Regions from separate parts of the Homo sapiens genome. Here region 2 is linked to region 1. Evidence: fine-mapped expression QTL. A gene starts in region 1. The other region holds a variant in brackets. All regions are shown on one strand. Distances are from middle to middle.

Region 1 (16,648 bases):
AACCATATTGATCTTTTCTCTTAGAATTTCAGGTGACTAAAACTGCACTGTAAACACAGTGAACAAAATTAAATAACACTGCAGTGTTTCCCAATGTGCAGGATCCATACCACTGGTGATAATCAACATAGGCAGTACATGAACAAAGCAGTAAATAACATTGAATCACACAGCAAGAAAGTTATTCCTGTTTACAGGCCAGGCGTGGTGGCTAATGTCTGTAATCCCAACACTTTGGGAGGTCAAGGTGGGTGTCTCGCTTGAGCTCAGGAGTTCAAGACTAGCCTGGGCAACATGGCAAAACCCCATCTCTACCAGAAATACACAGAATTAGCCAGGCATGGTGGCTGCGCTTGTAGTTCTAGCTGCTAAGGAGGCTGAGGTGGGAGAATCACCTGAGCATGGGAAATCCAGGCTGCAGTGAGCTGAGATCTTGCCACTGCACGCCAGCTTGGGCAACAGAGTAAGACCGTGTCTCAGAGAAAAAAAAAGCTATTCTTCATTCAAGCCTTGAGATTCGAAGTGCTTGGTTGGCAAGAGTATCTAGATAGAATTTAATAACTGGTTTGTTTTCATTATACTAATTTTTACATTTACTATCTTGACTTTTTCCCCCCTTATTGACAGGCGTTTACATTTGTCTGGATTACCCACATTCACAGACGCGTTAAGACAGGAGTGCAGGTGCTGCTATGTTATGGGAACCCCTTAGTCAAAAAACACAAAAATCCAATGGTCTTTTCCCAGGGCTTATCTTTACTTGAGCTAAATTCTCCCCATGGTCTTCTGTAACACACACTTAGCCTCTCCAGGAATGGTGTAGTACACAGAATAAACTGGAGTCAAGCTGGTTTTGAATGCTGGTTCTTTTTACTGCTTTTTGAGTCTACAAAGCCAGTCTATCAAGTGAGGCTAAAATTGGCTACCTTGGAAATGGAAAGGAATAAATGAGATAGTAAATGTAGAGCAGCTGCCATACAGTTTAACAGATGCTCAATAAATGCTGATTTGCTTTCCTCCTTCGCTTCTCCTTCTCTGTCCTTCAGTACTTTTCTCAATATTCTCTCTCACTGGTTTCCTTCACTCTCATGGCTTTATTACCCTTCTATGGATGGGTAACTTCTAATTTTCTATCACCAATTCTGACCTTTTTTCAGAGTACCAAACCTTAGCTTTTGTGTGTTTAATAATTCTACCTTGATATTCTGGCATCATCTTAAACTCAATCCATACAAAATTTCTCTTTCTACAAAAAACTTGAAGGCAGTGGGGGTAAGGTGAGAGAGTCACAGGAGTTGGAGTGAGGAGCCACAAGTTCTTTTTTTTTGTCCACATCATGGGATTTTTTTTTATAAGTTCACTGGTTTTTAGTCTATGTTCTATCTACTCTAATCACCTGAACATGTTTCCTAGCTTAATTTCATGTTTTTCGTCTGTGATGGAGTGATAAAATGAACATTTTCTGTTTATAACTTTTTGCAAGCTTAAAAAATGCCATATAAAATTGCTATTGACATCTGATTCAACATGGTGGGATGAGGGAAGGAGTTAAGGATGAGATTTTGAGCCTGAGTTCTGCAGTGTCTTTTGCACCTGTCTCGCCTTTCCTTCACCATTGTCATTCCCCAGAATTCAGGCCTACCTTATCTTTCACATTTGTGATGCATTTACAGAAAAATTGGCTCAGTCAGGGAAGTAATAGTTGGTAGTGTGTATCCAGCATTGCTCACGAGTTTTAAAAATAACCATGAAATATATAATATACATACTGAAAGTACATTTTTCTCCAAAAAACCTACTTCTCATTAAGTCATAGAGTGCTAACACTCATGTAATCCCAGTGTCTTAGAATGTTCGGCTTATTTGGCTCACGGTTTTGCAGGCTGTACAAGAAGCATGGTAGCAGTATCTGCTTCCAGTGAGGGCTTCAGGCTGCTCACGGTGGAAGGCAGACAGGAGATGACATATGCAGAGATCACATGGCGAGAGAAAGGAGAGAGGAGGTGCCAGTCTCTTAATGAACTCACTCCTTACAGAATACGAAGCCACTCATGAGAAATCCACTCCCACAACCCTTCCCACCAGGCCTCACCTCCAACACTGGGGATGAAATTTTAACATGAGACTTGGTAGGGTCAGACAAACCAAACTCAAGCCATAGCACCCTACTTAGGAACAGAACATCAACAGCACTCCAGAAGCACCTATTACCTCCCAAGCACTACTCCCTGCAAAGCTAACTATTTCTTTTCTTTATACTTTTACTACCTAAACATATATCCCTAAATCTAGATTGGTTTGCCTGTTTGTTGAACTTCCCATTTTCCAAAGTGGTTATACCAATATACATTTCCAGCAGCTGTGTAGTTTCAGTTACTCCAACTCTTGACCAACATCTGGCATTTTCTGGGTTTTCCATTTTAGCCATTCTGTTGGATGTGAGATTAAAATATCATTTAGGTTTTAATTTGCATTTCTCTAATGATTAAATTAGTTGAGTATCTTTTACATGTTTATCGGCCATCTACACGCCCCTTTTATATTTTTTAAGAAACTAATATTTAGATACCCTTTTTTGTGAGGTGACTGTTTAAGTTTCTACCTTTTTTTTTTTTTTTTTTTTTGAGATGGAGTCTTGCTTTGTCGCCCAGGCTGGAGTGCAGTGGCACGATCTTGGCTCACTGCAACTTCTGCCTCCTGGGTTCAAGCAATTCTCCTGTCTCAGCCTCCCGAGTAGTTGTGATTACAGGTACGTGCCACTACGTCTGGCTAATTTTTATATTTTTAGTAGAGACAGGGTTTTGTCATGTTGGCCAGGCTGGTCTTGAACTTCTGACCTCAAGTGATCTGCCTGCCTGGGCCTCCTAAAGTGCTTGGATTACAGGTGTTAGCCACTGCCTGGCCTCTACCCATTTTTTTATTGGATGTCTTCTTTTTTATTGATTTGTGGGAGTCTACAAATTCAAGATAGCAGCAAAGAGATGTATTTCTATTGTAGACATGAATGCATTTGGCTGGGTGTGGTGGATTACATCTGTAATCCCAGCACTTTGGGAGGCTGAGGTGGGAGGATCACTTGAGCTCAGGAGTTTGAGAATAGCCTGGGCAACGTGGCAAAACACAGTCTCTACAAAACATACAAAAATGAGCTGGGCGTGGTGGTGTGCACCTGTAGTCCCAGCTACTCAGGAGGCTGAGGTGGGAGGATCGCTTGAGCCCAGGTTGAGGCTGCAGTGAGCTGAGATCACATCACGGCCTTCCAGCCTGCATGGGCGACAAGGTGAGACCTTATTCCCTCCACCTCCCCAAAAGATGAAATGAATTCATTTGTTTGATGCTATTAGAATACCAGTAACTCCCCTTACTTTGGCCCCAAATTCACAAATGAACCCTCCAAAAGGTAATGCAGTTAACTTCATGCATTCTCTTTAAACAATGTACTGAGTCTTTATGCCAGGGAATTTGGAATTAACAGATACAGTACAGGTCTCTCATTTCAAAGTAGTATTCCTAATCATGAAGGAAATGAGAGACCTGTACTGGAATCCTGTCTTTAACACCTTTGAGGATGGTGAATTTAGGTAAGTTATTCAACCTATTTTAGCCTCGGTTTCTTCATTGGAAAAATGGGGCAAACAATACTTATTTTACAGAGTTGTGAGGATTAAATGAGACAATATATATAATATGCTTTGCACAGTGGCTGGCATACAGGAAACGTTTAATATATGGTAGCTACTATAAACTCGGTTATTTCCGTGTAGCTTTCCATGTCTACATGGAGGGAGAAAATGAGCAGATGTCCATTATAATTTAGCTATTACAGTTTTCACTCTAAAGTAAAAAAGGCATTTAGATTTATATGTCTTCTGGGAGTTTGGTTCTTCTGACTCCCTTCATCTGTGAGACCATAGGTACTTTTATGTAATATGATAAAAATTATTAGAAAAAGAAAAAAACGGCCGGGTGCAGTGGCTCACACCTGTAATCCCAGCGCTTTGGGAGGCCAAGGCAGGTAGATCACCTGAGGTTGGGAGTTCGAGACCAGCCTGACCAACATGGAGAAACCCGTCTCTACTAAAAATACAAAATTAGCAGGGTATGGTGGTGCATGCTTGTAATCCCAGCTACTTGGGAGGCTGAGGTAGGAGTATCGCTTCAACTCAGGAGGCAGAGGTTGCGGTGAGCCAAGATCGCACCATTGCACTCCAGCCTGGGCAATAAGAGCGAAACTCTGTCTCAAAAAAGAAAAAAATAAACTAAAAAGGAAAAAAGGGCCGGGCACGGTGGCTTACGCCTGTAATCCCAGCACTTTGGGAGGCTGAGGCAGGCGGATCACAAGGTCAGGCAATGAAGACCATCCTGGCCAACATGGTGAAACCCCGTCTCTACTGAAAATACAAAAATTAGCTGGATGTGGTGGTGCACACCTGTAATCCCAGCTATTTGGGAGGCTGAGGCAGGAGAATCGCTTGAACCCAGGAGGCAGAGGTTGCAGTGAGCCGAGACTGCACCACTGCACTCCAGCCTGGCGACAGAAAAAGACTCCCATCTCGAACACAAAAAACAAACAAAAAAAGGGAAATAAAGAATATGCAAAGTACAATCCCTCAAATTTTTATTAGACCCACAGAAATAAAATTAGTCTGTTAAACTGCTATAAGTTTCTAAATTCTTACTTTCTGTAAATGCCTTGACATGGATGTGTAACAAAGGGCTTACAGACTGGCACTGCCTTGTGGACCACACTTTTGGTGAGACTGCTCTAGAGCGCTGACAAAAATCAGACTTTGAATCCACAGGGCTGAAGTCAAAGCAACTGAAGGGTGTCCTGACTCACCAGCTGGCCACCTAGTGGCCTCCTTCTAGTCATAAGCACAACCTTGTGTCACTCCTTAGTTCAAAAACCATCCATTATTCTGCCTGACTCAAGGGTAAAATCTCAGTCCTTTAATCTGACATCCAAGGCCTTCCAGAGCTGGTTCTAAACAACTTTTTAAGTCTGACTTTCCACTATCCTCTACTTCACTAGACTGCATTGTCCAATATGGTAATAACTTGTCCCACTTGAAATGCAGAAGTGAAATGAGGCTAATTTAGGAACTGAATTCATAATCCTAACTTTAATTTAAAATAAAATTTAAAAATATACACGATTCGATTACCGTAAAACTTTTAAGTATGCTTGGAACGACTTGGGTACGTGAATCTATTTTTTCAGCTGGAAATTTTATGAAATCAAGTACTGAGATATGCTATAAGTATAAAATACACACCAGATTTCAAATGCTTAGTTATGAGAAAGATAATGTAAAATATTTTTAATATTTAGTAATTTTTTATGTTGATCACATGTGAAATAATATTTGGATATGCTAGGGGTTAAAAGTGTAATTAAAATTAATTCCACCTAGACAACATGCCCCAAACCTAGGCATCACTATTGATTCCTCCCTTTCCTCATTTAATTGGTAAGCAAGATAGGTCAGCTTTTTGGATCCATCCACTTCCCTCATCTCTACTGCTACTATCCTAGTCCATGATACTCCATTTCTTTTTTTTTTTTTTTTTTTTTTGAGACGGAGTCTCGCTCTGTCGCCCAGGCTGGAGTGCAGTGGCACGATCTCGGCTCACTGCAAGCCCTGCCTCCTGGGTTCACGCCATTATCCTGCCTCAGCCTCCCGAGTAGCTGGGACTACAGGCGCCCGCCACCACGCCTGGCTAATTTTTAAAAAAATTTTTTATTTTGAATAGAGACGGGGTTTCACCATGTTAGCCAGGATGGTCTCCATCTCCTGACCTCTTGATCCTCCCACCTCGGCCTCCCAAAGTGCTGGGATTACAGGCGTGAGCCACCGCGCCCGGCCAGATACTCCATTTCTTAAATCCTTCAATGGCTTCCAGTGCACTTCACCTTCTTATTGAGGCTGAAGACTTCACCTCCTATCATTCCTTCTTTTGGTCACTAGATTTCGGATACACTGACCTTGCTATTCCCTAAACACAACAAATTTTTCACCTTAGGGCCTTTGCCCAGCTATTCCCTTTGGTCTCACACTGTTCTTGTCCTTTCTAATACCTTCTCAGTGAGGCCATCTCTGATCAACCAACCACCAAAAGTTTGCTCTCTTTTCCCCAGAGTAACACTTTATCCAATCAGCTTTTAATTTTCCTCACAAACTCTTTTTTTTTGAGGCGGAGTCTCGTTCAGTCGCCCAGGCTGGAGTGCAGTGGCGCAATCTCGGCTCACTGCAGCCTCCGTGTCCTGGGTTCAAGCTACTCTCCTGCCTCAGCCTCCGGAGTAGCTGGAATTACAGGAGCGTGCCACCATGCCCAGCTAATTTTTTTCAGTAGAGACGGGGTTTTGCCATGTTGGCCAGGCTGCTCTTTAACTCCTGAACTCAGGAGATCCACCCACCTCGGCCTCCCAAACTGCTGGGATTACTGGCATGAGCCACTGCACCCAGCCTTCTTCACGAATTTATGGGATATTCTCTCTCCTCTTATTTTTAAAACTTGTTTATATGCTGTTTCCCTCTAAAAAACAGGAGTAGGAACCATTTGTTTTGCTGCTGCTTTACCTATTTCAGTGTGTAGAACAGTACCAGGCACAGAGTAGGTGCTCTTCCAACAGTGTTGAATGAATATCTAATTGCACACTACACATATATGACTGGTTGGCTCACATGCACTTCAAATTTTACATGGTCAAAACAAAGACTTCTTCCTTCCCTAACATATATTCTCTTATTTTGTTTCTAATCTCAGTGAAGACATTACTATCCTCCTAGCTGCTCCACCAACTCACTTGGGAGTCACCTGACATCTATCTCCCTCAGTCATTTTCAGTTAACCAAATCTCCCAATAACCACTTTATTTTCTTCACACCTACCTGCTACCAACTCAGTCCAAGTCATTACTGGCTCACAGCCTACTGTTTACTCCAAACTCTTCTGTTTGCCTCAAATTTTTGTGTAACAGTGATCTGTCTAAAATGAATTCAATCCTATGATTCTTCTACTTAAAATCTTTCAATATCTTCTTCCTGGTTCTCAGAAGCTGACTTCTGCACATAGCATTCAAGGCCTTCACAAGTAGACCTCCAGCATTGTCTTCTTTACCCAACAATCTCTCTAGTGTTTGCCTCCAAACATCTGTACTTACTGCTTCTCATCTAGAAAGTCTTCCATAATACCCTTATTAAAGCTAATTGCTTCTCTAGTCCCATTCCATTTTATTCCTCCCTCTTGGTTTAGTAAGGGGTTCCTCCTTTATTTGATTCCACAGTATTAAGTAGCTTCACTCTCATCATACTGATGATGCCTATTTACTTGTCTACATTCTACAGCCTAAGATTAATGGGGGCAACGATTCTGTAACAATTAGCTGAATGTTCACTCAAATAAACAATGCTCATTCAAATAATGCTACAGAAAAACATCAGAATTTGGCAAATTTCTATTAACTGAAGAAATGAAAATATTAAATCAAAAGAAAACACAGCCTATGGTTCCTATGCTTTTTTTCTATTTTAGGCACAATGCTTTAATAAATTACACAAAGACTACAAACCTTTATTACATCAATTGTTACAAAAGGCTAAGTGGAGAAAGATTACTTATCTGAAGCTGCACAAAATCAGTGGGCAATATGGATTTCATTTAAGCTTGTCAATTCTCCTGGATTAAATTCTTGGCGCTGTCTCACATATTCCCAAGTCCTACATGTAGGATGCTAAAAGTTGCAGTTACTAGGTTGGGAAAGCCATGCCCAGACGCCCCTGTGAAAAACATATCAATATATTAAGTTCCTTAGCAAATCACATCTAGATTAAGTTCATAATGCTTTTTTTTTTTTTAACTTTGCAAATCTCCAAACTTTTGCTACTTTCTTAATAAAATACAACAAAATTTTTGGCATTCCAGCCACGGAAAAACAGATCTCTACCTCTGAGGTGGCAGTAATCCAAGCAGTTACTAGGATCTACGAAACATGAGGCATAATTAGAATGTTGGGGAAAAAATCTACAGAAATATCTATATCTTCGTCATGAACCTGACTGTTGAGTTTATGAAAAAGTGGAAAAGGAACCTCACTCGTTCCTTCCCTGGTACCTTCACAGCGTCTCCCGTCCCAGTCTGCCTAGTTGAATCTAGGGACACTTAAAGGTAAATCCTAGCCTCTTGGCTGTCCTTCCGTCTCCCAGGATTCTGCTAGGCCGCACAGTTGGCAAGCTTAAAACTCCAAAGATTCCGCACTCTCCGTCTTTCAACAGTCATGTCACAGAGACACGAAGGTTAGCACAGGAACATTAGTTTCCAAACTCCTACCCACCGCAGAACAGGCGGGAAGGTTCGGTGGCCACCCGGCCTCTCCGCCGCGCACATGGCCGTCCGCAGCTCCCACCCCCGCTGCCGCGCAGGCGCCGGGCGAGCCGGGACTTGCGGTCGCCGAGAGCGGATCATTCCGCCGCTTTCTTTGTGTGGCTGAAGCGCTAGAAATGGCATATTTTCTTTCCCTTCGTTAAAAAATCAGACCCTCTTTCCCCTCTCTCCCCGCGGGAACACAGCTAGGGAGTGGGTAGGAGCAGGATCTGCCGACGAGGGCAGAGGCGGAAAATCCTCGGGCGATGAGCTGAAGAGGGCCGGGTCCGGGAGGGATGCTGGGAGCTTGACTCACTCGCACACCATGTGTCCCTCCGCGCGCAGCACGGGGGACTTTTCGGTGGGGATTTTGGGCGCCGACCAGACGCGGCATTTTCGGAAAATAGCGCCCTGTGCAGCTGAAGCGCTTTGTGTGTAGCGGGGCCGCGTCAGCCCGGCCGGGTACGAGGCGCCTCGGGTCCCCGCACCACCTCCTGCTGCCTTCCCGTCGCCGCTCCCGAAGCTTTTCCAGGTCAGTGCGGGTCTGTGTAGGGCCCTGTTACCACCGGATGTGGAAGTTGATCTCTTCGCTGGTAAAAAATAATTCCACTTCCCCCGGAACCCAGATCATCCCCGCGATTTCCTGTTTATTGCATTAAGGCGCCGGGTTTCCGGGGCTCCTGGCCCCGCTTATTCCGCGGGGGTCGGCGGGGTCGGCCTGGGCGCCCGCGCCGCCGCTGCGCTTTGTCCGCTGGGCACACTGCTTCTGGGAGGGGCGGGCAGACATGGTGGCGGCCGCCGCCCCCTCCTCGGCCCTAGCATGCCGCGGCCGCCTCGCGGCTACCCGGCTTGCCGGTCCCGAGCGGCAGCCCCGGGGTGGCGATGGGGTCGCGCCGAGGCAGCGGAGGTTCTGCGGGCGACTGGAGGTTGGCAGTGGGCGGGAGAAAGAGGAAGGCAGGCGCGGCTGGGCCTCGGCCTCTGGCGCCGCGGTACCCTTTGTCTCGGCAGCCTGACGGCCCCGCCGGGCTCTCCGGAGAGGGGAACGGGCGGCGAGGGTGGCGGGTCCTGGGCGCCCTGTGCTGCGGGGCCGAGAGGCGCTCGGGTCGCGGCGGGATCGGCCGGACCAGACAGGGTTAATGGAAGAGCCTGGCCAGTCCCGCGCGGGGCCCCCGCAGCGACAGCCTTGGCCGCGGGGACTGGAGTCCTGAGGGGGAGAAGCCTGCCGTTCTGAAGGCTCGGGACTTCTGCCCCAAAGACTTCGCCGCCGAGAACTGCGGGTGCACTGCCTCAGGGAAGAAGTTGAGAATTTTGCCAGGTCATCTCTGCCAGGGCACAGTTCATCACTGTGTGTTTAGTGTGTTTCGGTGAAGCTCTCCAAGTGTGTTGAATCAGCGTGCCTAGCCTCAAGGGTGCATCGTGAAAACTGAAACCAAAGGAATGATACAGGCCTGCTTTGTGTGTGTCTTCCCACTTTAAGCTTGTTTTCAGTACAAATACTCTTGCTTTAAACCTGATTGGACTGTGGCGAGCGGACATCTGTTCAAAGGAGGGGCCGAGACCACAGTACTTCTGAAGGGGGCTTGATAATGTGGAAACATTTTAAGTTTTCTCTCCGGACTGTTTTGCTCTCTCAATTCAGGCAAGTTACTGAAGTACGTTTTTTATCTAGAAAAAGGTTTGATGTAGTCTGTAAATGGTCCTTGTAAAGTACATTGCCATCTCAGAATTAAAAGATCCACTCTCATTTATTATGCAGAAGTTAGTGGTCATTCTTTCCTGTAGATAGTTTATCTCATGTAAAGACCCACCCAGCTTGGTTTAAATTTTTTTCTCACTGACGTATAACCATCAGCTTTGATACTTCCATTTTCAGGCTCAGACTTTGAATTTAAGGAAACTAAAGATGACTTTATTTTCTTTTCTCTTGGTTTTTTTTTTCCAAAAACAAAAAATAAATCCATTACATGTTAACATAGATGATAAGAGTGACATCTTGCATTTTTGCAAATCTTTTTAATGCCTGGTTTAATAGAAGATTCTCAGATCTACGTCAGACTGTTGTGGTTAGCACACCATGTAACCTCTGGAACACTCCACTGTACACTCATACTTTTTTAAAAAAAAAACCAAAAAACAGAAATGTGTCATTCTTACCGTGCTTTCACCATACAAGTCAAATCAAGCTGTTATGCAAGACACATTTTAACAAGACTGAATAAGATTGATTCCCATACTTTTTTTACTGGGCTCTAACTTTTTTAAAAGTTGGAATTTAGGTGACTAAACAAAATCACAGATGAAGACTGCATAATCTGCCTATGATCTCGGAGACTCAGGAACATTCGAAGATATTCTTAAGTGATTAAAACATTTAATTCTATTACATATTTATAATGATTTACACAAGTAACACGTGAATTCCACATATGCTATCAACACTTGTGTAAATGTTATCTTTAAAGATAGAACATGTTGAAAATTATAGGAGGTACAGATTTTACAGAAAATTAATTCTGCAGTGAATCCTTTGGTGAAACGAACAGTTTGCAGAGACATATCCTTAGAGTTCTTTGTCTCTCTGAATCATTCTGGGTTTTCTAGGTTGGGAGACAATTATACTTATTGGGAGACAATTATACTTAATTGATTAATGCATAAAAATTTAAGGCCGTATTTTAATGGCTTTGAAAGGAAGCTAAGTTTGTTTCCAGTTGTTTCTGTGAACTGTAGTCTGAATCTGTCAGTCTATAGTTCTCTACTGTTCCATCAACAGGAAGCATCTGGTCATTCTTCGTGTAATTGTTAGAAAATACCAGGTGTACTTTTAATGTTTGCTGTTCAAACGAAAATAGATTGGATCTTGGTTAAGTTCACTTGGTTTGGCCAGGCACAGTGGCTCACGCCTGCAGTCCCAGCACTTGGGGAGGTGGAGGCGGGCCGATCACCTGAGGTCAAGAGTTTGAGACCAGCCTGGCTAACGCGGTGAAACCCCATTTCTACTAAAAATACAAAAAATTAGCTGGGCGTGGTGGTGCGCGCTTGTAATCCCAGCTACTCGGGAGGCTGAGGCAGGAGAATCGCTTGAGCCAGAGAGGCAAAGGTTGCAATAAGCCAAGATAGCGCCATTGCATTCCAGCTTGGGCAACAGGAGCGAAACTCTGTCTCAAAAAAAAAAAAAAAAGTATGCTTGGTTTTAGTGTGTTTTTTCCCATAACATTGTGTCATTGTAATGGACCACATCTCCTGTACCATGAATTTTTTTTTACTTTTTTCTTTTGCCCCTCAGTACCAGAAATATTAACAGGTAACAGGTAAAGTGCACGTCATGAGGAATTCAGAAATTCAGAAATTACATGAAGTTTTGCATCATGAATTTATTTTTGAGGGTGCACGAGGCAGTTACCCAGTCTCTGTTTGCAAGTAGCCTGAGTTCAGATGAACTCACTGATGGCCTCCATCTCTTCTGACTTTGCAAACGTTGAAAAACAAACCCACACAAAATCTTGAAGTTGAGAGCAACTTAGTTTCCTTAGTGTCATCCCTCTGCTCCCCTCTCCTCCCCAACAACTAGTATGGTTTCCAGCTAGTAATCACAATGTTTCTATAGCTCTGATGTGCCTACATTGGGATAGCTACAATTAGTATTATAGTTTTCTGAAGATGTTTGTTCCATCATGCTTTCTAGAAGGTAAATCTAGCACTAGATGAGATCAGTATTAGGGCCTGTGTTTTTTCTCAGTGTTGACATCACAGTGCTCTATACAAAGAAGATGCTTTGGTGCAATCAGCTGTCAGTTCAGTTGGTGGGCTAGTGCACCTTTCTGTCTCCCTCCCTCCCTCCCTCCCTCCCTCCCTCTTTCCTCTCTCCTTCTCCCTCTGTCCCTCTCCCTCTCTCTCCTTCCCTCCCTGTTTTCCCCTTTGCACCTCTTCTTTCTTTGACAGGGTCTTGCTTTCTCTGTTACCCAGGCTTAGTGCAGTGGTGCGATTATACTTCACTGCAAGCTCCACCTTTCAGGCTCGAGCGATCCTGCCTCTGCCTCAGCCTCCTGAGTAGTTGGGACTACAGGTACCTGCCAACATGTCTGGCTAATTTTTTAATTTTTTGTAGAGACGAGATCTCACTGTGTTGCCCAGGCTGGTCTCAAACTTCTGGACTCAAGTGATCCTCCCACCTTGGCCTCCCAAGTGTTGGGATTATAGGCGTCAGCCAACACACCCATCTGTGAATAATTCTGAAGTTGGTAGAACAGCTTATTGACAGAGCAAGGTGTTAGCCCCACTTTACTGTGTACTAGTTATATTATATTTGGGGTATTGTGTTGGCTTTTTGGGTAGCATACTATCATAAGTGAGACCTTGTATTCATTCTCAGACTTTATCAGAATCATCTGGAGAGCTAATAAAAAGCCACACAGAGGCCCAAACTTAAGTAGGGTAGGAACGGACCTTAATTTTTCTCATTTCCAAGGTGGTAGACACCTAAGTGTCAAAATCACTTATCTGTAGAGCATAAACGAGGACCTTGATCATGAGAGAAATGGAAATGAGAAAAAGTTGAAAAAATGGGATGTTTGACCTAAAGAAGAGGAGCTTCTTTTAAGAAGTAACAGCCACTTTTAAGGATTTGGAGTTCTGTCATGCAGAAGGATCAGATTTGACTTGACCAGAAGGAACTAGGGTCAGTGGGTGGAAGTTTAAAAGAAGCAGATTTCAATTCTCTTTCAAGATAAATTTCCTCAAAATTGTGAAAATAGAATGAGTTGTTTTGGGTGGTAGGCTGTTCCTGTTCACTGACAAATTGGGGATTCTAGAGTAGAGGAATCGTACTGAAGGAGAATTTGAGCTAGGTGTCTTCAAGTTACCTATAAACTTTGAGGTTTTATTAAATATGCCGAGGTTTACAGGTGGAAGAACAAAAAGCTAATTGAGTGAAACAAACTGGTTAACTTGATAATAGTTTTTGCCTTCCTGGATAAAGAGAAATGAGTATTAAGTGAGAAGGCTATTTAATGAAGGGCTTTAAACCACACTGTAATTTGGTAGATTCAGCAGCTTTAAAAATTGGCATACCTTCTGACATGGAAATTCCCTTTAAAGAATTTTTTTTTTGATGTAGTAAAGATGTGTGTGAATATTTAATTGTGAGCATACTAGATGCAGTATTGTTGATTATAAAAGCTGTGTATTAATGCCTTTAAGCCCCACGGTAATCATATGAAGTGGGTAGTACTATTTCTGCTTTTCAGAAGAAAAAACAGGCATAGAGAAATGAGGTTGCTTGCTCAAGGTACCTGAGTTAGTTAAGTGTTAGGGCCAGGACTTGAATCCAACCAGTGTGACTCTAGAGCCAGTACTATTGATCATTATATGGTAAAATTGTAAACAACCTAAATGTTTCACAGTGATTGTTAGGGTCCATCCCTACAGTGGGGTACTGCCTTCTCAGCCATGAAAATGATGATAGAATAATATAAAGACATGAAAGGATGTCTTGGTATATGTAAGTGAGAAAAAATAAATTTAAAAACATGATTCCATTTTGGTAAAAAAACCCAAAAATATATTATGTCTGGAAGGATATGTGCCAAATTGTTAAATGGTTATTTCTGAGTGTAGTTTTACAGGTGATTGTTTTCTTTTTGCTTATCCAAATTTTCTAACTTCTACAATGAATATAAATTATCTATCATGTTGTAATTAAGATATTAAGATGTAACTTTTCAATAAAAAATTAAATGTGTTAGCATAAGCTGAGAAATTTGGGTTTTATACTCTGCATTTTAAGCAAGTTTGTAGAAATTGTACATGAGAATTTGTAAATGCATGTAGTGTTTTGTAATTTTTTGTTTGATTCCTTATTCTAGAAGTAATATCAATTGAGTAGAGAAACATATCACTCCTACCACCCTACCATAATCAATTATTTTGTTGTGTGTTGTTACTCTTATGTGTAATATTTTAAATATTCATCCCAGTGTCATCCCAGTTAGTCATACTCTAGCTGTGTGATTTTAGGCAGTTTACTTAATCTCTCCGTGGCTCAGTTTCCTTCTTTGTAAAATGTGGATTATTATAATACTTAGCTCATGATGATTGGAAAGATTAAATGTTATTTCATATAAAGTGAACAGAACAGTACCTGAAACATAACAGTTAATAGCTCAATAAATGTTAGCAATTATAGGATCACAGTCCACCATTCAAACTCTTAGGGTCTAATAGGTTATGGAATTAGGAATTTTTTTTTTATATGGGCAAGGTAGTAATGTGTAGCCTTCCAATAGAGTCCAGTGCAATATCCCCCTTCAAAAGTGTTACTGTTTCTGCAACAAAATGTATGAATGTTCGCACTAAATAGGATAAAGACTGTAAATAGCTTCATATCAGTTTGGGTAAGGTTTACCACAAGATGAGTTATTTTGGGTTTCAGAAGTTTTTTGGATTTTTGGAATTGAAGATAAGGAACCTATAAAATATTAATTTTGAGTCCTATTTTATAATATTAAAACATCTTTTCATGGTATTTTATAGTTTTATAGTGCATGGTAAATTAAAGTCAATTAAAATGAAATAATGGAAAATGTCCACCTCCATCTCCTTTGATTTAAAAAATACTCAGCATACTGATACTATGATTTAAAAAAAATTTTTTTTTTGAGATGGAGTCTCACTCTGTCGCCAAGCTGGAATGCAGTGGCACGATCTTAGCTCAGTGCAATCTGCGCCTCCTGGGTTCAAGCGATTCTTCTGCCTCAGCCTCCCGAGTAGCTGGGACTACAGGTGCGCGCCACGACGCCCAGCTAATTTTTGCATTTTTAGTAGAAACGTGGTTTCACCATGTTGGTCAGGATGGTCTTGATCTCTTGACCTTGTGATCTGCCTGCCTCGGCCTCCCAAAGTGCAGCAATTACAGGTGTGAGCCACTGTGCCCAGCCAAAAAGTTTCAAAGTTTAAAAAAAAAAAAATGGCCGGGCTCAGTGTCTCATGCCTGTAATCCCAGCACTTTGGGAGGCCGAGGCGGGCGGATCACTTGAGGTCAAGAATTCGAGACCAGCCTGGCCAACATGGTGAAACGCCGTCCCTACTAAAAATACAAAAATTAGCCAGACGTGGTGTGTGCTTGTGTCTCGGCTACTCGGGAGGCCGAGGTGGGAGTATTCCTTTAGTCTGGGAGGCGGAGGTTGTAGTGAGCGGAGATTGTGCCACTGTACTGCAGCCTGGGTGACAGAGCAAGATTCTGTCTCCAAAAAAAATTTAAAAAACTACTCCTGTTGGTCCTGACTGTGATTCTATTTTAAAGAATATCTTAAACCCACTAATGCTGTGATTATATTACATAATGTAGAATCTTTTTCTGAAAGAGGCTTGAGCATTCCTATAACCCAATTAGCTTGTTTATGTCTCATTACACTTGAGGGATAAGATACTTTTACTATGGTGGTTTACTATAGTAGTGATTCTTTTTTTTTTTTTCCAGATGGAGTTTCACTCTGTCACCCAGGCTGGAGTGCAGTGGTGTGATCTAGGCTCACTGTAACCTCTGCCTCCCGGGTTCAAGTGATTCTCCCAAGTAGCTGCAGTTACAGGTGCCCGCCACCATGCCCAGCTAATTTTTGTATTTTTAGTAGAGACGGGGTTTAGCCATGTTGGCTAGGCTGGTCTCCAACTTCTGACTTCAAGTGATCTGCCCACCTTGGCCTCCCAAAGTGCTGAGATTACAGGTATAAGCCACTGCGCCCAGCCTATAGTAGTGATTCTTTAAAGGAGGTGGGTAGATGACACTGTGATACCTGTCTTTAATGCACCCATTCTGTGCATGTAGAGACTGAGGTGGTTGTAAAATTACAGTACTGAACTTTGGAATTAGGTCAATTCTTCTCATTATGATAACGGTTTTGGATGTATAGCCCCTTCTGACTCCTGGAATCCTTTATTTCCACAGCACTTCCCATGTATCCAAACAGAGGAAAAAATAATTAGTAGTATAGTGCTTGCTTCAGCAGCACATATACTAAAATTGGAACGATGCAGAGAAGATTTTCATGGTCCCTGCACAAGGATGACACATAAATTTATGATGTGTTCCATATTTATTATTATTTTTAATAATAAAAAATAAAAAAAATTTGTATGGTGTGTAAGTGAATGATCTAAAAAATTTCCTTTGTGCCCTAAATGACTTGTGTGAACTCTGTGATCTTTGCCAATGTGATTATTCTTCCTGTGTTCCTTTACTTGTTCCATTCATAGTGACCCTCAGTTTCTTGCCCTAAGTGCTATGGTC
Region 2 (11,706 bases), 68 kb after region 1:
GTGATCACTGATATCCATGATGCCATACTGTGAGTTGATAGAAACTCAGCATATTTCAGAGCAACTGTGTATATGGATGGTAGCTTGATTTTAGTAGAGAGTGGTTTTATTTAATTACACTTTTTGTAAAATTACACTTTTTGTAATTGCACTTTTGTAATGTGTAAATACATTAAAAACCATGCCATTTAGAAATAATTTTTAATGTCATTCCTCTTTTTGAACTAGTTATAATTTTTTTTTTATATGTAGACAGTTTTCAAACCCACAGAAAAATTGGAGGATGAACCTGTATAACTTTCACCTGTATTCACCAGCTGTTAACATCTTGGCATGCCCATATGTTCTCTGACACATGTGTGCATGTACACACACACACACACACACACATATACACACTTTTATTTTGCTAAGTTATATGAAAGTAGGCTGGAGACATCATGATACTTCACCTTTACTTTGGCATGTATCTCTCAAGAATAAGGATGGCCTTCTACATATCCACAGCTCCATTTTATTTTCTAAAAACATCAACATTAATTAAAAAAAATTATCTGACATATGGTCCATTTTCAAGTTGTCCTCCAAATGTCGTGTATAGTCAGATTTAGTTCAGACATTTCCAGGAAGAACACCAGTGAATTTTTGTAACCTCCCAGTGTATCACGTAAGGAGGCTCATAATATCAGCCCATCCTGATAATGACCACTTGGTAGAATGATGACTGCCGGGTCTTTTCAGGTAGATTTTCCCCTTTGCAACTAATAGTAATCTTTGGTGGGATACTTTGAGAACATTTGAATATCCTGTTTCCCCAAAAGATTTTATCAATGCTTTTAGCACCCACTACCGATCCTTGCTTGAATGAATTATTACATTAGAAGTTACAATGATTTATCTTTTTTTTTTTTTTTTTTTTTTTGAGATGGAGTCTCACTCTGTCGCCCAGGCTGGAGTGCAATGGCGTGATCTCAGCTCACTTGCAAGCTCCGCCTCCCGGGTTCACACCGTTCTCCTGCCTCAGCCTCCCGAGTAGCTGGGACTAGAGGCGCCCACCACCGCGCCCGGCTAATTTTTTGTATTTTCAGTAGAGACGGGGTTTCAATGTGGTCTCGATCTCCTGACCCGCCCGCCTTGGCCTCCCAAAGTGCTGGGATTACAGGCATGAGCCACCGCGCCCGGCCGCAATGATTTATCTTAACTTGTCATTTTTTAAATGTTAACTAGATGTCTTTCTATCAGGAATATCTTTCCCATTTCCTCCTTTCTCTCCTTTTTATGAGGTATTATTATAGATAGAATTTTTTTTTTTTTTTTTTGAGACAGAGTCTCACTCTGTCACCCAGGCTGGAGTGCAGTGATGTGATCACTGCTCACTGCAGCCTCAACCTCCCAGGCTCAAGGGATCTTCCCACCCTAGCCTCCCAAGTAGCTGAGACTACAGGTGTAAAACACCAAACCTGGCTAATTTTTAAATTTTTTGTAGACAGTTTTTCACTGTGTTACCCAGGCTGGTCTTGAACTCCTGGGCTCAAGTGATCATCCTGCCTCGGCCTCCTGGAGTGCTGGTATTATAGGCATGAGCCAGATAGAAAGATTTTTTAAAATTCAGGCTGGGCGTGGTGGCTTACGCCTGTAATCCTAGCACTTTGGGAGGCCAAGGCAGGCGGATCACAAGGTCAGGAGTTCAAGACCAGCCTGGCCAATATGGTGTAACCCGTCTCTACTAAAAATACAAAAAAAAAAAAAAAATTACCAGGCGTGGTGGCACACACCTGTATTCCCAGTTACTTGGGAGGCTGAGGCAGAAGAATCGCTTGAACTCGGGAGGCGGATGTTGCAGTGAGCTGAGATCACGCCACTGCTCTCCAACCTGGGTGACAGAGTGAGATTTCGTCTCAAAAAAAAAAAAAATTCAATGGATAGTAATCCATTACTATCATTCCTTTTGATGCTTTCTTATTGAAGTGAGGTTTAATGTACAGAAATGTTTATAGATTATAAGTGTACAGTTTGAGGAATTATCACAAAGGGTTTACATAGGATAATTGTAAACATTGTGTAAACATTGCTCAGTTCATAAATGGAAGGTAGACAGTACATATTCTTTTGTGTCTGGTTTACATCACTCAGTTTTGTTTTTTGTCAGGTTCATCCATGTTTTGCATATAGTCAAATTGCTGTGTTTGACTCTACCATTGTTAATTTATTATCAAAGAATATCTGCGTTGTTTGTAGTTTTTTACTAGTATGAATAAAGCTACCATGTATATTCTTCTACATGTCTTTTGGGATCAGTAGTTGGGTGTAGGATTGCCTGTGAGAAAGGATTTTGGCAGTATTAACTTGTGATTTCTCTACCCAGACAAGGCCACAGGTGCTGCTTGAGCTGCCAGAATCCTCTCTAAGGCTTTCATAAATTATTAAGAGCATATTTGGGGATTTTATTTGTGGAAATGTTAACATACACTATTTACTATCACATAGTACCACATCTGTATGCCACTTATTATCAAGGCAAATCCTTGCTCACTTAATCCAAAAAGAGAATACTCTTTATTCTGTATGTCAACTCACACATAAATGTAAATGGAGTATAATCATATTCAAATTCATCTTATGAATTGTGGATTTTTTTTTTTTTTTGAGACAGGGTCTTGTTTTGTTGCCCAGTGTAGAGGGCAGTGGCATGATCTCTTCTCATTGCAACCTCTGCCTCCTGGGTTCAAATAATTCTCCTGCCTCAGCCTCCTGAGTAGCTGGGGTTATAGGCATGCACCACCAGTCCCAGCTAATTTTTGTATTTTTAGTAGAGACAGGGTTTTGCCATGTTGGCCAGGCTAGTCCCGAACTCCTGACCTCAAGTGATCCTCCCGCCTCAGCCTCTCAAAGTGCTGGGATTACAGACCTGAGCCACCAGCACCCGACTGAATTGTGAGGTTTTACGAAACAGATATAACCTTTGTCATGATATTAGATCTAAATTTTGTACCTCATACAACCAAATGAGAAATTGTTTAACCACTCACATGTAAAGATAGTTGGAACTGATGTATTGTAAATTATGAGAGACTTGTAATCAACTGGTTACATAGATATCTCCAACACCTCTGGCGACTGAGTTTTAAAACCATGTACAAGTTTTCCTGGGTAAGAAAGAAGCAGGGGACCAGGTGTGGTGGCTCATGTTTGTAATTCTCAGCACTTTGGGAGGTCAAGGCAGGAGGCTTGCTTGAGGCCAGGAGTTTGAGACCAGCCTGGCCAACATAGCAAGACCCCATCCCTAAAAAAAATAAAACTAGTCAGGTATGGTGGTACATACCTGCAGTCTCAGCTACTTGGGAGGCTGATTCAAGAGGATTACGTGAGTGCAGGAGTTAAGGATGCAGTGAGCCATGATTGTGCCACTACCCTCCAGCCTGGGCATCAGAGTGAGACCCTATCTCTATTTAAAAAAGAAAAAAGAAAAGAAAGAAGCATAGAAAGCAAAAGTAGCAGACAAAGCAAAAATAGGTTTCTATTCATACCGTTACATATGTTTGCTGAGTTTTCTTTTTTTTTTTTCCAGTAGTGGCCACAGAAGAAGTAGTTACTGCAGAATCTGTGGATGGTGCCATTCAGCAAGTAGTTAGTTCAGGGGGTCAGCAAGTCATCACAATAGTTACAGATGGAATTCAGCTTGGAAATTTGCACTCTATTCCAACCAGTGGAATTGGTCAGCCCATCATTGTGACCATGCCAGATGGACAACAAGGTTAGTAGTAGACATTTATATAAAGTTTGTATGTTTTTTTTTTTTAATTTTTATTTTCTTTAAGTCTTCCCTGCAGTCCAAAAAGATTGTGTTTATTTTTAATTCTCAGGAAATTGTGGTATGTGTTCCAAAGAATGTATTTTTGCCTTGAGTTATATTTGTATAACCCTTTGCAATAGACTTAATTACCTAATTTTATTTGCTTAGGCTAATTAAAATTCAAATTAGCTTGCTTTCTCTGAGTATATACTGGTGGAAAGAGAAATTGGCCCCAAAGTATTCTGGTTGAAAAATGAGCTTAAATGTCAACACAAATAATATCCAAAATAAATAATTCAAATCAGCATTGGACAGTAGTTTCCTAGATCATTTAATGCAATTCAATTACCATGTGAGCTTTTAAAAATACCATATAAGAAAAAGCTACTTAAAAAGAAGTTGGAGCCTGGGCAACATAGTGAGACCCCATGTCTAAAAAAAATATTCAAAATTAGCTAGGCATGGTGACATTTGCTGATAGTCGCAGCTACTTGGGAGCCTGGAGTGGGAGAATTGCTAGAGCCCAGGAGGTTGAAGCTGCAGTGAGCCATTATCATGCCACTGCATTCCAGCCTGGGCAACAGAGAGAAACTCTTTCTCAGAAAAAGAAAAAAAAAAAGGTGGACTTAGGACTTGTAGTAGGAATATGGTAGCACATTTTAGCAGCTTTATTGTGAATTCTAACATTTTTCTCCTTTTGGAAACCACAAAGGCTAACAAGATGAAACAAAAGTCTCAGCTACATTTTCAGTGAAACTAAAAGGCTGAGAAAAACCTCAGAATTCCACATTTTTAAGTGCCGCCAAAAGCATCTGAAGCCATTACAGCCAGGGCAAGAGGACTCTCATAGAAATCCACACTGGTGCATCAAGGAAAGAAAAGGGGTTAAGCTCAGCAATAAACATGCTCTCTCAGAAGGATAGGGCCCCAGACTCAGTAGGAAGTGCTGCATGCAGGACTGAGATAGAATAGGGCATGAATACTGAGGCAGAGAGAAGCTGTAGAAAGTGCCTAAGTAAGCATTGCCCTGTACCTTGTCTCCCCCTAAAAGAAGTGTCCACACATAATCTTTGAGAAAATGACTAGGGCTAGTAGTATGGTGGCTCATGCCCATAATCCCAGCACTTTGGAATGCTAAGGTGGGATGATTGCTTGAGGCCAGGAGTTCAAGACCAGTCTTAGCAACACAATGATACTCATCTCTACAAAAATAAAAATGACGAAATTAGCCAGGTATGATAGTGTGAGCCTGTAGTCCCAGCTACTTGGAAGGCTGAGGCAGGAAGATCGCTTGGACCCAGGAGTTTGAGGCTGCAGTGAACTATGATTGCACCATTGCACTCCAGTGTGGATGACAGAGCGAGACCCTGTCTCCATAAAAATAAAGAAAGAAAGAAAATGAGTAGGATTGTAGAGCGTGTGCCTTTCATGGCCAGTGAAGGGCAGGGCTTGAGGTAGAACTTCGCCTAAACCAGGTTTGGTTTTGAGTGACAGAGGAGGCATGGCATTGAACAGAGACCAGATTTCAAGAAAGGAGTTTGTTGCTGTAGCAGTAGGAGAGGAAACCCTTGACCTCTGAAGCCTGGAGGCCATTCTGTCCCACTCTGCTGAAATCTTCTGCTGATAGCTGGTCTGAAATTTGGATTAGGGTCAGATGCTTTCACAAAGCATTAAAGAACTAATTCTAATTTTCAGAAAAGAAGAAAACTTTAAAAATATTTGTATCAAGCAGACATAACATTGTTTCCAAAACCCGTATCATTATACAGACTAATGATTTCTCACAGCTCTGAAGGCTAAAAGTGCGAGATCAAGGTGTTGGGCAGGTTTGGTTTCTTCTGAGGCTGCTCTCCTTGGTTTGCAGATGGCCGTCTTGTGGCCTGTCCTCACATGGTCTACCTCAGTATTTGTGTTATCTGTGTCCTAATCTCCTCTTCCTGTAAGGACACCAGTAGTACTGGATTAGGGCCTATCTCATTTTACCTTAATTATCTGTTTAAGGACCCTATCTCCAAATAGAGTCACACTTTGAGGTACTGGGGGTTAGGACTTCAACATGTGAATTTGGGGAGTGGGAGTGCCATTCAGCCCATAACAAATACCAAGTTTTTTTCTGTAATTAGCCAAATGGCTTCTAAAGTTTATGTTGATGGGGCAGAGGGAAGAAGAATAAGGAAAACTCTGGAAAAGAATAACCATGAGAAAGTTCTACTGAATATTTAAAAAAAACTTCTAAAGCCTTCCTGAATTAAAAATATATAGTTTACATGTGAATTATGTAGACTTTACAGACAGTCTAATAAACAGATTTAAATTCTCATTTTTTCCTGAGGTAATTTATGTCATGAATAAAAAAGAAGTAAAACCCAAATTCTCAATATTTCTAATGTTTTAAATTACATTGTACTAAATAAATATTAGTTTTACTATTTTTAAATTTTTATTTACATTTATAACTGTCACTAAGAGAGTTTTTCATGTTTTGGCAAAAAATTTTAAAGGCCGTGGAACAATTATAATTTTCCCCATTGTGATTATTAAAATGGCTTCGCATGGTTTCAGCTTGCACAGTCATTTTTATGTTCCTGTAGTGCTGTGCAAAGCAAGGACAGCCTCTCTATATAATTGCATTTATATAAAGAGCTACTAAAAATTGAGAAAAAGCCCAACAGTACAATACAAAAACAAGCAATGTTTATGAACTATCAGTGCTCATAATGGAATATGCACTTAGTGGATATTATGCAGCTAAATAAACAGAAGCTCTCTATGTAGTGATGTAAGATATTATAAGTATTTGGAGTGAAAAAAGCAGATGCAGAACAATATATCTATTGTATAGATGCTACCTTTTATGTAAGAAAGGAAAATGAGAATGTATACTAATTTTTAAACAAATTAATATAAGGATAATACATAATAAATTAATAAAATGATCATCTGTTAGCAGGGGTGGGCATGAGGCCTCTCAAAATATGCTCGTTAAATATTTTGATGTTTTGAGTCATGAATGAATATATTATCTATATAATTAAAAAAATATTTGTAGGTACTTTAATAAGTAGATTTCAGTAAAAAAGCAAGAAGGTAATAAAAAAGACAAATATGGATAGTCTCATAAAAAGCAAATCAATGATTTGGAATTATTGTTTTGGAATGTAGTTATTTTAGATGAGTAGCATCAACAATGTCAAGACTAGTTTTATTTCTAATAAATCTCTCTGAAAATGAAGTAATACATAATTTTTTTTTCATTTTAGTATTAACAGTACCAGCAACAGACATTGCTGAAGAAACTGTTATAAGTGAAGAACCACCAGCTAAGAGACAATGTATCGAAATAATTGAAAACCGGGTGGAATCTGCAGAAATAGAAGTAAGGAGTCTTTTACCCGGTGTGCTTTGCCGCAGTCATCCAAAATAAATTCAATTTTTTTTGTCTTTTATATTTATTACTGACAGTATTGTTTTGATACAGAATGAAAGTGCGTAGTATTTTCATTTTGTTTATTTTTGCCTTATACATATAGCAAGCCCTCAATAAATAAATATTGAATGAATGAATGAGTGAGTGAAGAATTTGTTTATAACAGTCTGTCATCTTGATAACACTGGAATGTCTTTGGTTCTTCCACTTCATCCTTTATGTTTTAAACTTACACACACCATTCTTACACGTCACTAAAGGAAAATACCAGTATATATTGGCTAAAATTTTTTTTTTGTTGTTCAAAACTGAAACTCAAATGCCTAATTGGGCTAGGGGTCCTCTTAAAGGAGGTTGATGTTTGTCAAATGGGTTATTTTTTAAAAGCAGTAGATAATTGCTTATTTCAAGGCAAGTAA[A/G]TGAATTTAGACTAGCTGTTCATAGGATTCATCATTTTTTCCCCTCTCCCAAAGTAATTTGTAAGCGTAAACCAGTTTGTAGGTGTAACAAAACCATAGTTGCTTCACAGGTTTTTTTCTTGACTGACTGTAAATAAATTTTGTTCCATGAACTTGATAATAAGTTATATCAAATGAAAACAAAGTTATACTTGAATAACTTTGAAAGAACAACTGCAGCCACTGAACTTGAAATCAAATGAACTGAGTTGGAATCCCACCTCTTGCTCTGTTAGCATTGAGGCAAGGAATCTTATCTTTCTGAGTTTCAGTTTTATTGTGTCCCAAACTGGAATTTAGAATAATAATAATGTCTCCATTTTCGGGTTTTTGTGAGAATTGAAAAAGTCAGCATAGTCATACAATATTTATATCTGATACGTGTTTGTAGTAAACTTGGTGAATATTTAGTAATTTTTTGTAAAGGTTCTTGTTATAGAAAGGAGATTTTTAAAATAAGTCACTAAAAGACAACATAAGTCAAACTAAAGACAATGAGAAAATACCCTTCCTAAATTCATGTAAATATAAGACTGGTACATCTTTCACCACACCACAAATATATTATTGAGTTTAAAAAATCTGGTTATTGGTTAAACCGGAATATTTGGTAAAATTATGACTTTAAATATTGATGTTGGGTTGTTTTATTTCTTCAAGATTTAAAGTGATGTGTAGGATGTTGAAGTTCTTATTCACAAACTAACAATTTTTCCATTGAATAGTATCAGTATACTTATTATTTAATAATTTTTGTTGTTTTTCTGATATGTCAGATGATCTTTTTCAGACACATAAGGTAAAAAAATTGTCATGTACTTCGCTTTAACTATCTAATAAAGTATTATTTTAAAATTACTTGAATTTTTATTAAATGTAAGCTTATTTAATTCAACAGATTATATTTTTAAACAGTGAATGTGCAGCCTATACCTTTATTTACCTAATGACCAGTAAGCATTGCTGTTTCCCTCAAAGTTCAGCCTGATTTCTTTCTTACAGTCTTTTGAGAGACCAGGGAAAATAATTGCAAATAACAGGGAAGTATGAATTGAGAGGTATATAAAGTAACTAGGGCCAAGGAGATGGAGCTTTAGGGAGATTCAGTTTTAGCTTGGTATGAAGAACAGTGATTTTTGTTTGCTTGCTTTGTTTTGATTTTAGTAATTAGAGCTTTCTGGTAATGGAAATCTTATTCTCCATCACTAGAAATGTTCAAGCCAAGGTTGCATGACCTCTTAGGGCTATTTCAGAGAAACCTGGAAGCATACAGTGAGTATACAGGTAGTGGTAGGCTGGAGATATAGAATGAAGAGATGACCTCCAATGTTTTCACCAAACCAGGTAATAATTTCCTTATAATACATGAAGTCGTTATTTTGCATTTATTTTCTTAGGTGGCCAATGGGGTTATCTTGGGGGGAGACTTTTATACTCCTAAGGGACAGCTTGGCCATTAACTTTCAAAGTTTCTCTAAAGCAGCGTCAGGAGATATATTTGGTTGTCATGACTAGTGGCATTCCACTGACATGTAATGGGTAGAGGCTGGGTAGACATCCTACGATGCACAAGACAGCCTCCCACAATAAAGAACTGTGTGGCCCAAAAATATCAGTGATGCTGAGATTGAGAAACTTAAAGAAATTTAAAAATTAACTCTATACAAAATCTAATGTTTGAGTTTTCTCCATGTATCTGTGACTGCAATGACCAGAGTGACTGTCCATAAAGAAAGTGCTAAGAGTTGGCTGGGTGCGGTGGCCTACACCTGTAATCCCAGCACTTTGGGAGGCCAAGGTGGGTGGATCACCTGAGGTCAGGAGTTCGAGACCAGCCTGGCCAACATGGCAAAACCCCATCTCTACTAAAAAATACAAAAATTAGCTGGGTGTGGTGGCACGCACCTGTAGTCACAGCTACTCAGGAGGTTGAGGCAGGAGAGTTGCTTGAACCCGGGAGATGGAGGTTGCAGTGAGCCGAGATTATGCCATTGCACTCCAGCCTGGGTGACAGAGTGAGACAAAAGAAAAAAAAAAAACAATAAGGTGCTAAAAATTTATGTTTACAGTTTCCCAACTAACAATGGAGAGGTTTGCCAAGAGTCTCTGGAAAAATTACTTTAAATTGTAGAAAGTGTATTGTAAATTTTGTGGGGCTTTACATCTGCATATGGCAATATAGGAAATAAAATAGGTTTTTTTTTTTGGAGGGAAAGGTATGAATAAAATACCAAATTGCAATAATGTATATAATTTTATCTTCCATTTATTACCGCATTGAAGATATTTTTGGAGGAAGAGTGTTATTTACAGATTTCCAAAAATAAACGTTAGACTATTCTGAATTGAAATTAATCTTTGTACATGTGTAAGAAATGTATTTAGTGTATTAGGAGTAACAGATTTCTATTACTTACTTTATTGTGTGACTTCAGGAAATACCTTTATGTTTTCTTTGCCATGGAGGTTAGAGATAAATGTTTATTAGTAAATTTTATTTTATTTTTTTAGATAGAGTCCCTGTTGCTCAGGCTGGAATGCAGTGCTGCGATCTCAGCTCACTGCAACCTCCGCCTCCTAGGTTCAAGTGATTCTCCTGCCTCAGTCTCCTAAGTAGCTGGGATTACAGGCATGCATCACCATGCCTGGGTAATTCTTGTATTTTTGGTAGAGACGGGGTTTTACCGGGTTGGCCAGGCTGATCTCGAACTCCTGACCTCAGGTGATCCATCCGCTTCAGCCCCCCAGAGTGCTGGGATTATAGGCATGAGCCACTGCGCACGGCTGTAAATTTTATTTTTATGAAATATTTGTGTCCTTAACTGGTGGTAGATTTGAGATCCTTAGTGCTCTCTTAAAAACTGATTTCTGTAAACTTTATAAAATGTTTTATTTGATGCAAAGCTTTTCAATCTTTTTTTTTTATGGCTATCTTTCCTGATCTGCCACAATTTAAAAATGTTTATAGTCACATCCGTCTCTGTTTTTTTTTTTTTTTCTTTTTTAAGGCAGGGTCTCACTTTGTCACCCAGGCAGAAGTGCAGTGGTGCAATCATGGCTCACTGCAACCTCAAACTCCTGGGCTCAAGCAAGCTTCCCACCTCAGCCTCCCAAGCAGCTGGGACCGCTATACCCGGCTAAGTTTATTTTTATTTTTATTTTCATAGAGAGGGTGTCTTGCTATGTTGCCCAGGCTGGTCTTGGACTCCTGGCCTCAAGTGATCCTCCCACCTCAGCCTCCTGAAGAGTTGAGATTACTGGCATAAGTCACCATATCCAGGTCATATCTCTTCTCTCTCTTTTTTTAAATTAGTGTTTTTATGTATGTATGTATGTTTGTATTTATTTATTTATTTTTTGAGACAGGGTCTCACTGTGTTGCCTAGGCTGGAGTGCAGTGGTGCAATCACAGTTCACTGCAGCCTTGACCTCCCTGGGCTCAAGCAATCCTCCCACCTCACAGCCTCTTGAGTAGCTGGGACTACAGGCTACACCACCATGCCCAGCCAATTTTTGTATTTTTTTGTAGAGATAAGGTTTTGTGGCTGGGCATGGTAATTCATGCCTGTAATCCCAGCACTTTGGGAGACTGAAGTGGGAGGATCACTTGAGGTCAGGATTTTGAGATGAGGTTTTGCCCTGTTGCCCAGGCTAGTCTCTCACTCCTAGGCTCAAGCAATCCACCTGCCTTGGCCTTCCAAAATACTAGGATTACAGGCATGAGCCACTGCATGCCCAGCACCCAGTCTATATCTCTTTTTTCTAAGGCTGGAGAAGGCAAAGTTTTTTTTCATAAATGGCCAGGTACCAAATATTTTTGGCTTTGTGGGCCCTACAGTCTGTCAACTACTCAATTCTGCCATTGTAGTGAAAGCAGCCATAGACAATTTGAAAATGGGTGGGTGTGGCTGTATTTCAATAAAACTTTATTTATAAAAACAAAATCATACTTGTCATATTTGGCTCAGGGCAGTTAGAAAATTGATGTTTACACACAAGCAAATAGCTCACATATCCTGCCCAGTTTC

The links. PIP is the estimated chance that this variant, and not a neighbour inherited with it, causes the effect.
Region 2: its variant is fine-mapped to the expression of GABPB1-IT1 in visceral fat (GTEx, PIP 0.96).

The regions. Positions count from the first base shown.
Region 1 is chr15:50,347,233-50,363,880 of GRCh38, reverse strand. It overlaps GABPB1-IT1 (GABPB1 intronic transcript), which reads left to right and starts at 9,002. Exons shown (of 1, transcript NR_026891.1): 1 at 9,002-14,945. It overlaps GABPB1 (GA binding protein transcription factor subunit beta 1), which reads left to right and starts at 8,683. Exons shown (of 9, transcript NM_016654.5): 1 at 8,683-8,896. It overlaps GABPB1-AS1 (GABPB1 antisense RNA 1), which reads right to left and starts at 9,707. Exons shown (of 1, transcript NR_024490.1): 1 at 5,569-9,707. It overlaps MIR4712 (microRNA 4712), which reads right to left and starts at 3,552; the gene lies at 3,471-3,552. It also overlaps the pseudogene RNU6-94P. RefSeq lists enhancers at 8,130-8,209, 8,278-8,901, 9,640-9,699 and silencers at 8,410-8,459, 9,040-9,289, 9,300-9,509.
Region 2 is chr15:50,281,531-50,293,236 of GRCh38, reverse strand. It overlaps GABPB1 (GA binding protein transcription factor subunit beta 1), which reads left to right. Exons shown (of 9, transcript NM_016654.5): 7 at 3,569-3,754; 8 at 7,054-7,169. Among named protein-coding and RNA genes, the nearest start is that of HDC, 22 kb to the right of the region's middle. The variant A/G (reference allele first, on the strand shown) is at 7,640.